Linked DNA regions of Homo sapiens. The protein of the gene in region 2 purifies or fractionates together with the protein of the main gene of each other region. This does not show direct contact. Each region holds a gene or a part of one and is shown on either strand. Other genes may lie near its edges.

What was found.
Region 1: the proteins of SOAT1 (region 2) and CARNMT1 purify together in Homo sapiens (affinity purification with mass spectrometry; 2 studies listed by BioGRID and IntAct, with this or other methods). This does not show direct contact.

The regions. Positions count from the first base shown.
Region 1 is NC_000009.12:75,025,261-75,032,973, forward strand, and holds the start of CARNMT1 (carnosine N-methyltransferase), read right to left. Parts: upstream 3,034-7,713; 5' UTR 2,982-3,033; coding exon 2,752-2,981; intron 1,892-2,751; exon of another isoform or gene 1,793-1,891; intron 1-1,792.
Region 2 is NC_000001.11:179,288,858-179,297,152, forward strand, and holds the start of SOAT1 (sterol O-acyltransferase 1), read left to right. Parts: upstream 1-4,939; 5' UTR 4,940-5,079; exon of another isoform or gene 5,080-5,544; intron 5,545-8,295.

The DNA.
Region 1 (7,713 bases), on a different chromosome or scaffold from region 2:
TGAAATCTGTTTACTGCTATATGCAATTTACTTGACAGACAAAAGCAGAGTGATTATTTTAAGAAGATACTGGTAACATCTGAGCTTACTGCAAAAGCAACAGGAAGTGGCTACAAAATTATTACAGTAGTACAGTATCTACTACAGATAATTTTATGCAACTAAGATTTAATGCTACATCTTTGCTTGTTTACATTTATCTCAATTGCAAATAGCTCCATGTAAGATCTGTGTTTGTGTAAGTTTTGATAAATTTTAACTTTTTATAATAGATTTGTGTATATTTTATGGTAGTAAATGATAAACTAGTATCTACACATATGCATTCATGGCATAATTTTTTCTTAATTTTTTCACTATTTCTAGGCTATGCAAGTTTGCTAAGTTTTTCAAATTGTTGCAAATGTCAAAACAATTTTCCAATATGTTTATTTCAAAAAATTTGTGTATAAGTGGACCCGTGCAGTTCAGATCCATATTGTTTAAGGGTCAACTGTACTTGCTAAATGTGTAGAACCGGATTGTCCATCACAACCTACTTCGATAATGGAAAAGCTTTTATTTGCACTGTCCAGTACAGCAGACTCTAGCCACATGTAGCTATTGAGCACCTGAAATATGGGTAGTGAAACTGAGCAACTAAATTTTAAAGCTTATTAAATACTAATTAATTTTAGCTTAAATTTATCCAGATATGATTAGTGGCTACAGTTTAAGTCTAGAAGATCACAAAATATTAGAATGTAACAATCCACTGTTCTCTGCTACATAAACTTTCTGTACCCCTAGGCTTTAAGTGACATTTTAAAAAGCATATTTTTGATGTTATACTATTTTCAGCCCAAGTATTTGAAGTGTTTCAAGAGAGTATATACAAATAAAAACTGTTTTTTTTAAAAAATGAAATGTCCTGAATCCAACATTACGCTGGTAAAGAAGAGAGTATAGGAAATAGTATCACAACCACTAGAATATTCACACAAGATCTCTTCTCTATATTGCCACACTTCAGTTCCTGATCAACCCCTACCCCAACAAAGTCCCATCCCATACTTACCCATAAATATCAATTTTAAATTGGTCCTAATATATTAAAAGTAAGTACAACTACGCACTTAACTAAATGGGTCCACCATATTCCCAAGACATTTCCCAATATTCTTTCTAGATTTTTCAAGAGCAAAATGTACCAGACTTTTCTGTATCTCCCACTCTTAGCTATCTGATGTTAGCTGCCTTTCCTAACTTTATGGTTCTTTCCGTCACAATTCCTGCATCAAATTCAATTCTCTGATGGTCTGACGCCTTGCTCCCTCTGTTACTACTAAACCTGGAGAAATAAAATATCCAAACTTCTCTTTTGGGCTCCGTAAAGTAATGCTGTCCCTGGTCCCTATTTCTGGGTTTAATCAGTAAATTATTTCATCAAGATCTTCGAAGTTCAAAAGTTCCTATCACATATACAATCAGATTCCAAATAACTTTAAGCTTTCACTAAGCAAGCTTCTAAATTCAGACTAGTAAACTAATTTAACTATCAGTCAAAAACTTGACAGACTATTTGGGAATGAGAAATGTATTTCTTTGCTACTATTTGTTTTGTTAAAAATAGAGCTTAAACAACATATGCCAAGCACTAGTGACATAAAAATAAAAAAGACTCAGCCCCTGCCCTTGAGGAGGTCACAGCAAAGCAAGAGATTTATAAAAACAACTATAATACATAAGATGAACAATATAAAAAAACTTTGCATAAAGCACAGCAGGAACCCACCTATGGGAACAGGTTTACCTGCGTAGGAGGTCATGTCTGTCTGATTCCAACTGCAGCCTCAGAACATAGTCACCGGTGGACTCATATCTCTTACGTGAATAAAAGTGTTATCTTCACCTGAAAATCCAGTTGATTTAAGTCCCTTTCAGCTCTTGGAATTATAATTTTGTGATTAAGCTACTTTAACATCTATCTAGAAGAAACGTGGAAGTTAGGGAGCTGTTTTTATGAATGAGGAGCATAAAGGTCCTACCACAGTGCCTAGCACACCAGGGAGAATTAGATACAGATTTGCAGAAAAAAAGAACGTAAAGGCAGCTCTTATTGTGACTTCTCTCATCTCTCCTAATAATTAGCAAATTTTAGAATATCCGGACCACTTCCGCCCTTAATCACCCACCAGTTAAAGACACTGAGCAGCATCATTCAATCGCTCACACAAAAGTGCAAGTGCGTTCACAGCGCCAAAGAGGGGTGGGTGGAAATCTTAAACTGCTCTTACAAGCACTGGTAACAGTTTGGGAAAATACGTCCTACAGCATCCCACGCGTAGGTGAACTTGGGCTCTCCGTGTGTTCAGTTTGGAGGACATCGACCACACACACCAATCAGCCCAGCAGTGGACGATTGTACCACCATCGTCTTCTATCTGAAATTGTTACAGCGCTTCTCTGGTCACCCCCATCGGCCTCAAAGCCAAACCTTTACGAGGACGGAGGCAGGAGAGCTAATCTGATCCTGAGGTCAGAAGACACGAGGCTGTGCAGCAGACGGCGCGGCGGACACGCGGGTGTGCAGGGCCGGGAGGGGCTGGGGTGGTGCGAGGTGACTCGGGGCCCGGAGGTCAGCTGCAGCAGCCGGGTCCCGACGCCTCGGAGGCGTGGCGGCGGGACGGCGAGCGCCCCCGTTCCGGCGGGTCCGCCGCCACCAGTGGGCGCCCCGACGGTCTGGGCCGGGGTCCGCCACGGGCTCCTTACCCGTAGTAGCGGAAGGCATTAATGATCTTCCAGAAGTGCTCACGCTCAAGCCTCTCCTCCTCCTCCTCGGTGCTGCGCGTGGCCGCCGCCGCTGCCGCCGAAACCGCCGCGGCCGAGCCCCAACGCCCGGCGGAAAACTGCACTTCCACCTCCTCGCTGCCACCGCCTCCTCCCCCGCAGCCCTCGGGCAGCCGGGAGGTGGGCGGCGGAGGGCGACGCCGTCGCTGCATCGCCGCCGCGGCCCTCGGCCTGGCTCGCTTGCGTCTCTCCGCGACCGACAGCGTGGTGGCGGCTGCTTGGCCTTCCTCTAGACGGCGCCCGCCGCGGACATGCCCCCAGCTCGCGGCGCGCTCCGCCCCCGCCACCCTCAGGCCTCCATCCGCGCTGGGCTCCGCCAGGTCTTCAGGGCTCCCAGAACCAATGCGCATGCGTGTGCCTTGGTACGCGGAGGGCCCGTGCGGTCTGCGCTCATTTGCTGCCGGGCTTCGGAGACAGCGCGCTGACGTCACAACCACGCTTCCAAGGGCGGGGCCAAGGCCCCTTGGTGGGAGGCGGAGGAGGAGCTCGTAGGTGGGGTGGGACTGGCACTGCCGTTACCTGTGCGCGGCCGCGTGGGTGGGACTTAAAAGCCGGCGAGTGCCGGATTGTTGAGCTGGAGGCTGAACGCGGTCCCAGGCACTAGCAAAGAAGGGAAAGGCAAAAAGGAAAAGTTCGGCTTTGATGATTTTATTCGGAATTTTTATTTCAGAAAGTCTAGAAGGAACGTCTTGTATCCACCCTAATTTAAGTTTTAATTCACTTCCTAAATGAATTCCTATTTTTAATTACTTAAGGGGGTCGGAAGTGGGCGCCATCATCTTTTCACTTTTTTTTTTTTCCCCACTCTGTCGCCCAGGCTGGAGTGCAGTGGTGCGATCTCGGCTCATTGCAACCTCTGCTTCCTGGGTTCAAGCGATTCTCCTGCTTCTGCCTCCCGAGTGGCTGGGATTACAGGCGCGCGCCACCACGCCCGGCTAATTTTAGTATTTTTAGTAGAGATGGGGTTTCACCATGTTGGCCAGGCTGGTCTGGAATTCCTGGCCTCAGGCGATCCACCCTCCTCGGCCTCCCAAATTGCTGGGATTACAGGCGTGAGCCATCGCGCCCGTCCCATCTTTCCAGTCTTTAGGGGCTTGCGGCAGTCCTAATTCCTCCTTTACTGAGGATGGCAACAGATGAGGAAAATGCAAGGACCTTCTATCCAGCACCTGGTCTTGGGAAGACCATTACACCTACCAGCATCTAAGGGTGGCTCTTGGGAAATAACTTATTCTGGGGCCGGGCGCGGTGAATCACGCTTGTAATCCCAGCACTTTGGAAGGCCTAGGTGGGCGGATGACGAGGTCAGGAGATCAAGACCATCCTGGCTTACATGGTGAAACCCCGTCTCTACTAAAAACACAAAAAATTAGCCGGGCTTGGTGGCTGGCGCCTGTAGTCGCAGCTGCTCTGGAGACTGAGGCAGGAGAATGGCGTGAACCCGGGAGGCGGAGCTTGCAGTGAGCCGAGATCGTGCCATCCAGCCTGGGCGACAGAGCGAGACAGCGTCTCAAAAAAAAAAAAAAAAGAAAAGAAAAAGAAATAACTTATTCTGTTCAATTTAATCCACCACCCAGCAAATGAGTCTTACAAAGTAATGATAAAAGGGAAAGATTGCTTTATTCGAGGGGTTAAATATGCCCAGTGACCACAAAGTCTGTTAAAAAGTTACAACCATATTGAAAGTGAAGTGGCTTCATATTTTCATAATTTAAATTAATAGTTGAAATAAAGGTAATGCTTAAAATGACAACATTTTTATATAAAAGTTTTCTAAAACGTGAGTCTATTAATAGTAATGCAGTAATACATGTTTCAAAATTCAAAAAGAAAGTGCAAAGGATTACAAATATGAATTGGAGACAGTCTCGCTCTGCTGCCCAGGCTGGAGTGCAGTGGCACGATCTCAGCTCACTGCAACCTCCCGGCCTTCCAGGCTCAAGCGATTCTCCTGCCTCAGCATCCCGAGTAGCTGGGATTACAGGCATGCGCCACCACACCTGGCTAATTTTTTGTATTTGAAAATACTAAAGTAGAGACGGGATTTCACCATGTTGCGCAGGTTAGTCTCCCTGAACTCAGGCAATCCACCTGCCTGGGCCTCCCAAAGTGCTGGGATTACAGGCGTGAGCCGCCACGCTCGGCCAAGTGTGAATAATTGTTTTACCTGTCCCTAGCCAGCTATGTTCCTCTCCAGACACAATATACCAATTCCTTGCCCATTCTTCCAGATTTTCTATCTAATGTCTATTTTTCCAAACACTAATTGTTCGGAAGTTATGTATAAACACTCATAGTAGTAGCTGTTTCTAATACTGTTCTCATGTACACATGCACAGAAGTTTTACATGTTGTAATTCATTAAATGTATTGATATAGGTCTGAATGACCTAATTGATAAAGGCCAGAATGTCATGGATAAAGATAATCAGCTCCATACTTTGAAATATCCTCGGAGGTAGAATAAACATTTTCAAATTAAAGTTATGTGCAGAGGCTTCCTTGACTCTGTCTCCTAACTTGGTGAGTCTTAGAGTCTGTGTCATGAAGGTGCTCAGCTTTAAACTCAGTTGTGATCTTACAGGTGAGGAAACCAGGGAATCAGAGATATTAAGTGATCTTCATACACCCACCCTCCTCTCATACCTATATTTATCAATATTTGTTTATGACTGTGACTGTACTTTTTAAATATTATGCTAGCTAACATTTGTTTAATTAATATTTTTCAAATTGTTTTCCCAGTTTATCACCTTATTTGTCCCTTAGCTCTGTGAACTAGATGTCATTATTATCTTGCTATAAGAAATGAAGAAATAGACTCAAAGAAATTAATTTTCCTGCCCAGGGACACATAAATAGCAGAGCTGAAGTTAAGTCACTCATTCATTTATTCTTTTTTTTTTTCAACAAACATGTTGATTGCCTTCTATGTTTCTTTGCCCTGAGCTGAAGGCAGCAGAAGCTACAAGTATGGGCCTCTCACTCTCACTTCACCACCTAGTAATTCCATAACCTGTATGAAACATTATGTAAAGCTTCAATTGCAATATTTCTTATATTTCTTTTTCTTTTCTTTCTTACTTTTTTTTGAGTGGGGTGGGGTACAGAGTCTGGCTCTGTCACCCAGGCTGGAGGGCAGTGATGTGATCATGGCTTACTGAAGCCTTGACCTCCTGGCCTTACGTGATCCTCCCACCTCAGCCTCCTGAGTAGCTGGGACAACAGGCATGCGCCACCACTCCTAGCTAATGTTTTTTTAAATTTTTAATAGAGATGAGGTCTCATTATTTTGCCCAGGCTGATCTTGAACTCCTGAGCTCAAGCGATATTTCTGCCTTGGCCTCCAAAGTACTAGGATTACAGGCATGGGCCACCAAGCTCGGCAATTGTAATATTTATGAAATAGACATATTACCCTTTTTACAGGGTCATTGGGAGGAATACATGAGATAAAGACTGAAAAATGCCTGGTATATAGGCTCAATAAATCTTAGTTACCTTCCCTACTCTCAGTTGTCTTTAGAATAAAGTTTTAGCCTTGTTTTAAAACACTTTTCTTAGGACTTCTTTGACTTAACTTCTTTGCAGTGAGTTTCTTCCACTGATATCTTCCCAAACCATAGAGTGATTTGAGCTGAAAGATTTGGAATGTTTTTATCAGAAGGAGACCAATTAATCTCCAGGAATTAATAAGTAAAAAGCACCATCGTGCTTTTGTTAGTTATTCTGAAGAACTGTTGGTTAAGCACTTAAACTGCTTACATACATTTGCACACTGCTGCTGGAAATGTAACACGGTGCAGCCACTCTGGAAAAGAGTGCAAAGCAGGTTTGCTGTGCACTGGTTACCAACTGAGTCTGGTGAGACAGAACACCCATGTGTACAAGTTACATGAAGTGAATTTATTATTTACAGCTAGGCAACAAGGGAAAACCGAAGCATAGGATTCACTGTGAGCCAATCTCCCGAGACTCAGGAAAGTTGCCCCGGAAGGATGGAGTCTCATTTGTGTGTACCCCATTTGTACCACAGCTGAGTGACCCTGGAAAGCAGACCATCTTGGGTTTTATATTCTGGAGGCAACATGACATGTTGGGCTAAAATGATGAAGGACATCCTGTTTCTAGGAGGGACTGGAACAGAGCCTGGGCTGTTTCAGCCAGTCCCTCCTTATCTCAGGATATTGCATTCCTAGCACATTCTACAGTTATTCTTGAGAACTATTAATACAAGTGAGAAACTGGGGAGAAGTTGATCAGTCCAAGGCCACTGGGAACTGTCATGCAAAGAGTATAGTGATTTTTTTTTACAAAACTGAACGTGCACTTACCATACAACCCAGCAATTACGCTCTTAGACATTTATCTCAGATAAATGAAAACATGTACACACAAAAACCTGTACATAAAAGTTCATAGCAGCTTTATTTGTAAAAGCCAGAAATTGAAAACAACCCAAATGTCCTTCAGCAGATGAATGGTTAAACAAACTGTAGCTACTCAGCAATACAAAGTAATGAACTCTTGATATATGTAATAATTTGGAAGAATCTCAAAGGGATTATGCTGAATGGAAAAAAGGGCAATCTCAAAGGGTTACATACTGTATGATTGTATTTATTTTACTTTATTTTTTTTTTTTTTAGAGACAGGGTCTCACTGTTTCACCCAGGCTGAAATGCAGTGGTGTGACAGTGGCCCAGTGCAGTCTTGAGCTCCTGGTTCAAGCGATGTTCCTGCCTCAGCCTCTGTGAGTAGCTGGGACTACAGATGTGCACCACCACACCTGGCTGATTTTTTTTTTCTTTTGTGAGACGGGCCCTTGCTTGGTTGCCCAGGCTTGTTTTGAACTCCTGGCTTCAAGTAATACGATTACATTTA
Region 2 (8,295 bases):
TAAAATTAGCCAGGCATGATGGCGGGTGATTGTGGTCCCAGCCACTTCAGAGGCTGAAATGGGAGGATTGCTTGAGCCTGGGAGGCAGAGGTTGCAGTGAGTCAAGATTTGCACCCTCGCCTGGGTGACAGAGTGAGGCCCTGTCTACACCCCACTCCCATCAAAAACAAAAAGAGTATGGCTCAGAATGTCTCAACATGGTCTACAAACTTTTTAAGTCCTGACACTGGCTTTACCTCTGGCCCCTTTAACAATACTCACGACTTCCTTCATGTCTCCTGGATGGTTCTGGCTCCTTATTGCCTTGTGGCCTTTGACCTTGATTTTTTTTTCCTTTGTTTGGAATGTTCCTCCTCCCTACCCTGATGACAAAACTCCTCCTACTGGTTCAGAAAACTGGGCTCAGTTAGCCTTCTTCCATTCTCCCTTCCCTCTCCTCCAACCGCCAGCTGTGATCATCATTAACCTGCTCCCACTGTATTCAGAAGATAATAACATAAACAATAATAATAGCAGTTAGCCAAGCCTGGTGGCTCACACCTTTAATCACAGCTACACAGGAGGCTGTGGCAGGAGAACAGTTTGAGTCCAGAAGTTTGAGGCTGCAGTGAGCTACGATCATGCCATTGCACTCCAGCCTGTGTGACAGAGCAAGAAACCTGTCTCCAAAAATAAGAATAAAAATAAAATAACAAAAACCATTAATATTGGTTGAGCACTTCTATATACCAGTGTCTATATGTGAAGCTTTGAAGGCATTAACCAATTTAATCCACACAATGACCCTGTTGGGTAAACACATTTTTTTTTTTTTTGAGACAGAGTCTCCCTCTGTCACCCAGGCTGGAGTGCGGTGGCGCGATCTCTGCTCACTGCAACCTCCACGTCCCGGGTTCAAGCGATTCTCCTGCATCAGCTGCCTGAGTAGCTGGGATTACAGGTGTGCGCGTGGCGCCCGGCTAATTTTTTTTTTTGTATTTTTAGTAGAGATGGGATTTCAGCAAGTTGGTCAGGCTGGTCTCAAACTCCTGACCTGGTGATCTGCCCCCCCTCAGCCTCCCAAAGTGCTGGGATTACAGGGGTGAGCCACTGCGCCCAGCCTTTTTTTCGAGACAGAGTTTCGCTCTGTCACCCAGGCTGGAGTGCAGTGGCGCAATCTCGGCTCACTGCAACCTCTACTTCCCGGGTTCAAGCGATTCTCCTGCCTCAGCCTCCCAAGTAGCTGGGATTATAGGTGCCTGCCACCACACCCAGCTAATTTTTTGTATTTTTAGTAGAGATGGGGTTTTGCCATGTTGGCCAGGCTGGTCTCGAACTCATGGCCTCAAGTGATCTGCCCACCTCGGCCTCCCAAAGTGCTGGGATTACAGGCATGAGCCACTGTAAAGAATTTTTTTTAACATCTTTTTCTTTTTTTCTTTTTGAGAGGGAGTCTTGCTCTGTTGCCCAGGATGGAGTGCAGTGGCGCGATCTCGGCTCACTGCAACCTCTGCCTCCCAGGTTCAAGAGATTCTCCTGCCTCAGCCTCCCAAGTAGCTAGGATTATAGGCGCCTGCCACCACACCCGGCTAATTTTTTGTATTTTTAGTAGAGACAGGTTTTCACCATGTTGGCCAAGCTGGTCTCGAACTCCTGACCTCAGGTGATCCGCCCACCTTGGCCTCCCAAAGTGCTGAGATTACAGGTGTGAGCGACCACGCCTGGCCTTTAACATCCTTTTATTGTAACACTTATCTCATTGTTTTGAAATGGCTTATACCTATTAGTGTCTCCAATAGACAGTCTTATTCATATTCTTAGCACTAGCAACTATACAAGTTCTGTACACCTGTTTTTTTTTCAATATGATGAAGTCAACACTTGCATTTAACCAAACCTTGATTTCCAAGGATTGAGTAATGTGAGATTTTCAGTGCAGTGGTGGGAGAGGCTTGGAGTCTGAGCACAGGCTTTGGAGTCCCTCCAATCATATATCATCTTTGCCCTTGCACTAAATGGTATCCCCATCCTCTCAATTGCTTAAGGAAACAACCTGGGAGTCATCTCGTTTACTACCTTTCTTCACACCTGCACCTCGGGAAAATATCCTGAAATCTTTCAATTTCTATTTCCACACCAACCAGCCTAGTCCAGGTACCACCATCTACCCCCTGAACTTGCCCAATAACTTTGTATTGTTCTTCGGCTCCTTTTTGTTCCATTGCTGCTCCCTTCAAGTCATTCTCTATAAAATAGGTTGATTTAAAAAAAAAAATAAACCAATGGCCGGGCACGTGGCTCATGCCTGTAATCCCAGCAGTTTGGGAGGCTGAGGCGGGAGGATCACTTGAGCCCAGGAGTTCAGGACCAGCCTGGGCAACACAGCGAAACCCTGTCTCTACAAAAAATACAAAAATTAGTCTGGTGTGGTGACGCCCACCTGTAGTCCCAGGTACTAGGGAGGCTGAGGTGGGAAGATGACTTAGCGAGCCTGGGGAGGTAGAGGATGCAGTGAGCCCTGATTGCACCACTGCACTCCAGCCTGGGCGACAGAGTGAGACCCCATCTCAAAACAACAAAAACCCAAACCCTTCATTATCTTGCCTTTGCACTTAACAGATAAATCCAAACAACGTGATTAGGTTCCTGCTTAATGCTCCAAACTCAACTTCAAACCCCTATTTGACATGCTCAAGCCTCCTGGCCTGTTCCTCAAACAGCCACGCTTCAGCATCAGCCACAGTTCAGCATCGGGGCCTTGACACCCATTATCCTCTGTCTAGAATGTTCTTCCTCCCCATGGTTGGCTTGGCTGGCTCCTTCTTGTCATTTAGGTCTTAGCTCCTGAATTATCTCCTCAGAAAATCCTTCCCTGACCATTCTGTTTTGTTTTCTGCTCAGTACTTATCACTGCCAGTGATTATCTCATCTATTCGTTTTATTATTTATATTCTTCATTAGAAACATAAGCTTTTGTTGTTTGAGACAGAGTCCCACTGTGTTGACCAGGCTGCAGTGCAGTGGCATGATTTTTTGGCTCACTGCATCCTCCGTCCCTCACCCCCCATCCCCCACCACAAGCAATCCTCTTATCTCAGCCTCCCGAGTAGCTGGGACCATAGGGGCCTGCCACAATTCCCAGCAAATTTTGTTGTCATTGTTGTTGTTGTTGTTGTTGTTTTTAAATTCTGTAGAGAGGGAGTCTCACTATGTTGCTCAGGCTGGTCTTGGACTCCTGGCCTCAAAGTGATCCTCCTGCCTCAGCCTCCCAAAGTGCTGGGATTATAGGCTTGAGCCACCTGTTTGTTTCCTTTCATACCTAGTCCTGCAGAACATAAGCCTCTAAGTGCAGGGGCTTCTTCTGTTTATTCACCACTGTATTTCTAGCACCAAGAATACTATCAATATTTTTTGAATGAATGAATCAAACAGTGAAAAGGCCAGTCATCTTGGTGTATATAGAAGGTAGCCAACAGAGACCCAATAGAAATGAGTGCCTATGTTCCTACTGCTCTATAACTAGTGGGAGTGGGGAGGGGAAGCAGCTGGGGGTCTACCAGACCCTGTCACCAACTAGTCAGCACACGTGGCAATCACAGTTGTAGAAGAGGCCAAACGGAGCAGATCTGCCAATGACAGCCAGTACTAAACTCGACTGGATGCTGAGGGCCATTTCTGCTTTGAGTGAACAGTGCAGCCTGCTGGGTGGCCAAGGGAACGTGTACAAATCCACTTTGTTTAAAGGACCCAGAGAGTAGTCAGTTCTGCTAAACCTCATCTGTTTGTTCAGGGATTTTTGTCCTGGGGAGGAGTGGGGAAGAAGCGATTAGTCAGGCCAGGCTAGCTGGTATTAGTTTGCAGGCTGTGAGTGCGACTCTTCAGTCTCTGCTCCTCTCATCATTGCCTTTTCACCTACCTTTACCCTAAATTTACGTACACCTCTGCCTTCACAAATTCCAAGCGATTAACTGTTGTATTTAATCTCTGTCCCAAATCTCTCTGCATCATTCTTCTTTTGATTATGAAGTCACGAGGGCCCTTTGTTTATTTTATTTTTAAAACTTTTTTTGAGAAGGAGTTTAGCTCTTATTGCCCAGGCTGGAGTGCAATGGCACAATCTAGGCTCACTGCAACCTCTGGCTTCCGGGTTCAAGCAATCCTCCTGCCTCAGCCTCCCGAATAGCTGGGATTACAGGCGCGCGCCACCAAGCCCGGCTAATTTTTTGTATTTAGTAGAGACGGGGTTTCACCATGTTGGTCAGGCTGGTCTCGATCCTAACCTCAGGTGACCCAGCCACCTCGGTCTCCCAAAGTGTTGGGATTACAGGCGTGAGCCACCGCACCTGGCCTCAAGGGCCCTTAAATATTACTTAGTTGTTCCATTATTTGGTGTGTTTTATTATTTGGTGCAGGTTTTTTCCCCTTATCTAGTTTGAATGTTGCTGAAGGACGCTGGTTTTCAAACGGTAAGGAATCTCCTGATAAAGGCACGAATCTTGGTGTGCAGATAAGCCAGCGATTCTTGCTTCTGGCTAGTTCTACGTTGTTCCTGGATGGTCAGTTCAAACTGCAATGATCCACAGCTCCAGAAGCGGCTTCTTCCAGTCGGCCTAGGAGCCAAACGCCCCTGCAGCTCCATGCTACCACGCAGGGTGCCGTTTCGGGCTTGCAGGGAGTTGTCGCAGTCCCGTTTTGGCTGCACATTCTACTGCTGGGGTGGAAGTGTCAAGCAAGATGTTGTCGCCGGTATCATGATGTCCGGGTGAGAAGCTTCCTTGGCAGGTTGCCAGGGCCAGCCTGCGAGCACTGGCGCCGGGGACCCGCGCGCCCGGGAAGGGGCGGGGAGGTGGGCGGAGCCTGGCAACCTGGGGACCACCAATAGGATGCTCAGCCGGAGGTGGCCCTGCGCGTGACGCAGCGGTGCTCGGAGGCAGGGGGCGTAGGGGCCGGGCTGTCCGGCGCTTTAGCTTAGCAGGCGACGTTGCGGGCCCTGGGCGCCAGGAGAGCTTCCCGGAGTCGACCTTCCTGCTGGCTGCTCTGTGACCGCTTCCCGGCTCTGCCCTCTTGGCCGAAGTGCCCGCTGCCGGGCGCGGGCCTCAGGTAACGGTGGTGCTCCCGCGCCTCTCCTCGCTTCCCGCTTGGGTCCACCGGCCTCAGCCCGCGGGGAAGGGAGAAGCGGTGGCGGCAGCAGCTCCGGCCCGGCCTTGTCCTGGGCTGTGCTGCGGAGAAGGCGAGGCTCGGCGACTGCAGGGGAGTTGGGGAGGGGAGGGCGGGAAAGTTACCGTCAGGCGCCCGGGTCACGGGCAGCCTTTTAAACCCTGCACGCTGGTTTGGTGTTCCGCAAATCTCGTGGCATCTCTCAAGTCAGTAGTAAAGAAAGTTAGGAATTAGAAGACGTTTTATTCTTTAAAAAGCGAAACCAAAAATGCACTCAGGAAGTCAGCTTTTTAATGATTTAGAGAAAATGTGTGAAGGGAAGGATGGTATTAGCAAGACATGAAAATCTGTAGGGGCACCAGAACCTTTAATCAAGCTCATGTTTTATTGTAAAATATTAGGATGTAGGTAAGTTTCTGTTTTCCCTAAGTGTTAATGGTCATGTAATTTAAATAATATGTATATTGAAAGGTTATTTCTAAGTGAGAAACAACTATATAAACTTTATTCTCCGTATATATATTTAGGTTAAGTTCGTTGGTCACTTTTGTTTGTTTGAGACGGAGTCTCGCTGTGTCGCAAGGCTGGAGTGCAGTGGCGCAATCTCGGCTCACTGCAACCTCTGCCTCCCGGGTTCAAGCGATTCTTGTGCCTCAGCCTCCTGAGTAGCTGGGATTACAGGCGTGCGCCACCACGCCCAGGTAATTTTTGTAGTTTTAGTAGAGACGGGGTTTCACCATGTTGGACCAGGTTGGTCTCAAACTCCTGACCTCAAGTGATCCGCCCGCTTCGGCCTCCCAAAGTGCTGGGATTACAGGCGTGAGCCACCGCGCCTGGCCTGTTGGTCACTTTTTAATATTTAAGTGGCTGCCACCTGTTTAAACCACTTTTTTCTTTTTTTCAGCCTGCTTGATTTCCTCTTCCTTGAAGTAGAATTCAATTTGAAGCTTTTTTTTTTTCTTTTTAAAAGTTGGGCGGTGTCAGTGAATGACTTGTTAAGGAAGTCTGTGCGTTGTCTGGGTGTGAGAATGGGTTTTGGAAGGAGCTCTGTGGCACTGAATTATCGTTTAGAAATGCACGTGTTTTAGTGAATCACATGCTTAGAATGCATCTGAGGTTTCGCAGTCTTTTAGGATAAAGACCTACTGAGTGAGCACACTCTATCTCTGGTTCATTTGGCCCACTTTCCTTCTGGCTTTCCAGGTTCATGCCACACTGGCTTTATTTTTGTTACTGGAAAGCTTCATTTTCTTTCCTCTCTTGGCTTTTAGGAGTTTCCTCCACCTCTAATGCTGTATTCTCTCCCTCCCTCCAACTCTTATACCTGCCTCAGATATCAGCCCACATATCACTTCCTCTGGAAATCACCCCATCCCCATTAAGCCCTCCATGAACTCTTTATTCTCCTTAGCAGAAGTTGATCATTAATTGTAATGAATTAGTTGCTTTGTTTCCTCTGCTAGTGCATTTCATGAAGGCTGGTTTAGCCTGTTGTAATTTTCAGGGTCTGGTCCAGCACTTGGCCCAGAGAAAGAATGAATAAGTTGGTGGACAGAGGAAGGAACTTTTGAATGAGAAATACAGTGATCCCCACTTAACTGCTTTCTGTAGTTTCAGCTACCTGAGGTGCGAAACAGAGTACAATAAGACATTTCGAGAGATACCATGTTCAAGTGAATTTTAATACAGTATATTGTTAATCTCTTACTGTGCCTAACTTTTTGAAACTTTGCCTCCCAGGTTCAAGGGATATTCATGCCCCAGCCTCCCAAGTAGCTGGGATTACAGGCGTGTCCCAGTACGCCCGGCTAATTTTTTTTTTTTTTTTTGAGATGGAGTTTGGCGCTTGTTGCCCAGGCTGGAATGGCACGATCTCGGCTCCCCGCAACCTCCGCCTCCCGGGTTCAAGCGATTCTCCGCCTCAGCCTCCCAAGTAGCTGGGATTACGGGCATGTGCTACCACGCCCGGCTAATTTTTTTTTTTTTTTTTTTTTTTTTTTTTTTTTTTAGTAAAGACTGATCAGATCTTACTGGTCAGGCTGGTCTCGAACTTCCAACCTCAGGTGATCCACCCGCCTCAGCCTCCCAAAGTGCTGGGATTACAGGCGTGAGCCACCGCGCCCAGCTCACCCGGCTAATTTTTGTATTTTTAGTAGAGACAGGGAGGGTTTCACTGTGTTGGCCAGACTGGTCTCAAACTCCTGATCTCAGATGATCGGTCTGCCTCGGCCTCCCAAAGAGGTGGGATTACAGGCGTGAGCCACTGTGCCCAGCCTGTAAATGAAACTTTATAATAGGTATGTATAGGAAAAAACAACGTGTATTGGGTTCACTGTTATTCACAGTTCTAGGCATCCACTGGGAGTCTTGGACCGTATCCCCCATGGATATGGGAGAACTACTGTATTAACCAGGGAAGAGTCCCTTTTTCCTATGGGAAAAAGTTTTTAACAAAGACCAGCCAAGTTCTATTTTTCTAAGAGGATGGCTTTGTTTTGCATTTTTTTTGCCACATTGGTTAATAAGAGATTATACTAACCATACAGATGTAAATGAGAATTTGTTCTTGTTCTTTAGTTTTGCTAATTACTTAAAGACCTAGTTCTGTGATATGTAAAAGTTGTAGCGTTGTGTTAGGGCCAACCTTTGGGTGCCAGAGGGAAATTTTTTTTGCTCTGGATTGTAAATTCTATCCACAGTTGTGTCCCCTTTCCACCACTGAATCTAAGGGTGATGTGGCAAAGTTCTTTACCTGGAGTAGGCACTCAGTATTTGTGATACAGATTTATGGGCTCTTTTGAAAGCTGTATTAATGGGAACACGGAGGCAGGCTAAAGTTGACATGTCTTTCCAAGTTCATTTGTTTCTCAAATCATTTCTTTTTGTTTTGCTTTCTTAAGATAAGTTAGATGCTTATCACACTGAACATTATGTAATTGCGTGCACAGATTAGATTCTTAAGAAATTCTTTTTCAATCAGTGTGTTGTATAAATAGCTGTCTACTTAGCTTTGTTACCTGGGGGGGAATAGCTTTATGTTACCTGTGACTTTGAACAAGTTTGTTAGCATTTCTGAATCTCCTGCATCTTTAAAAATGGACATGTTAAATGAGATATGTGCTACACCTACTGCACTCAGCACTTTGTTACCTGCTTCCT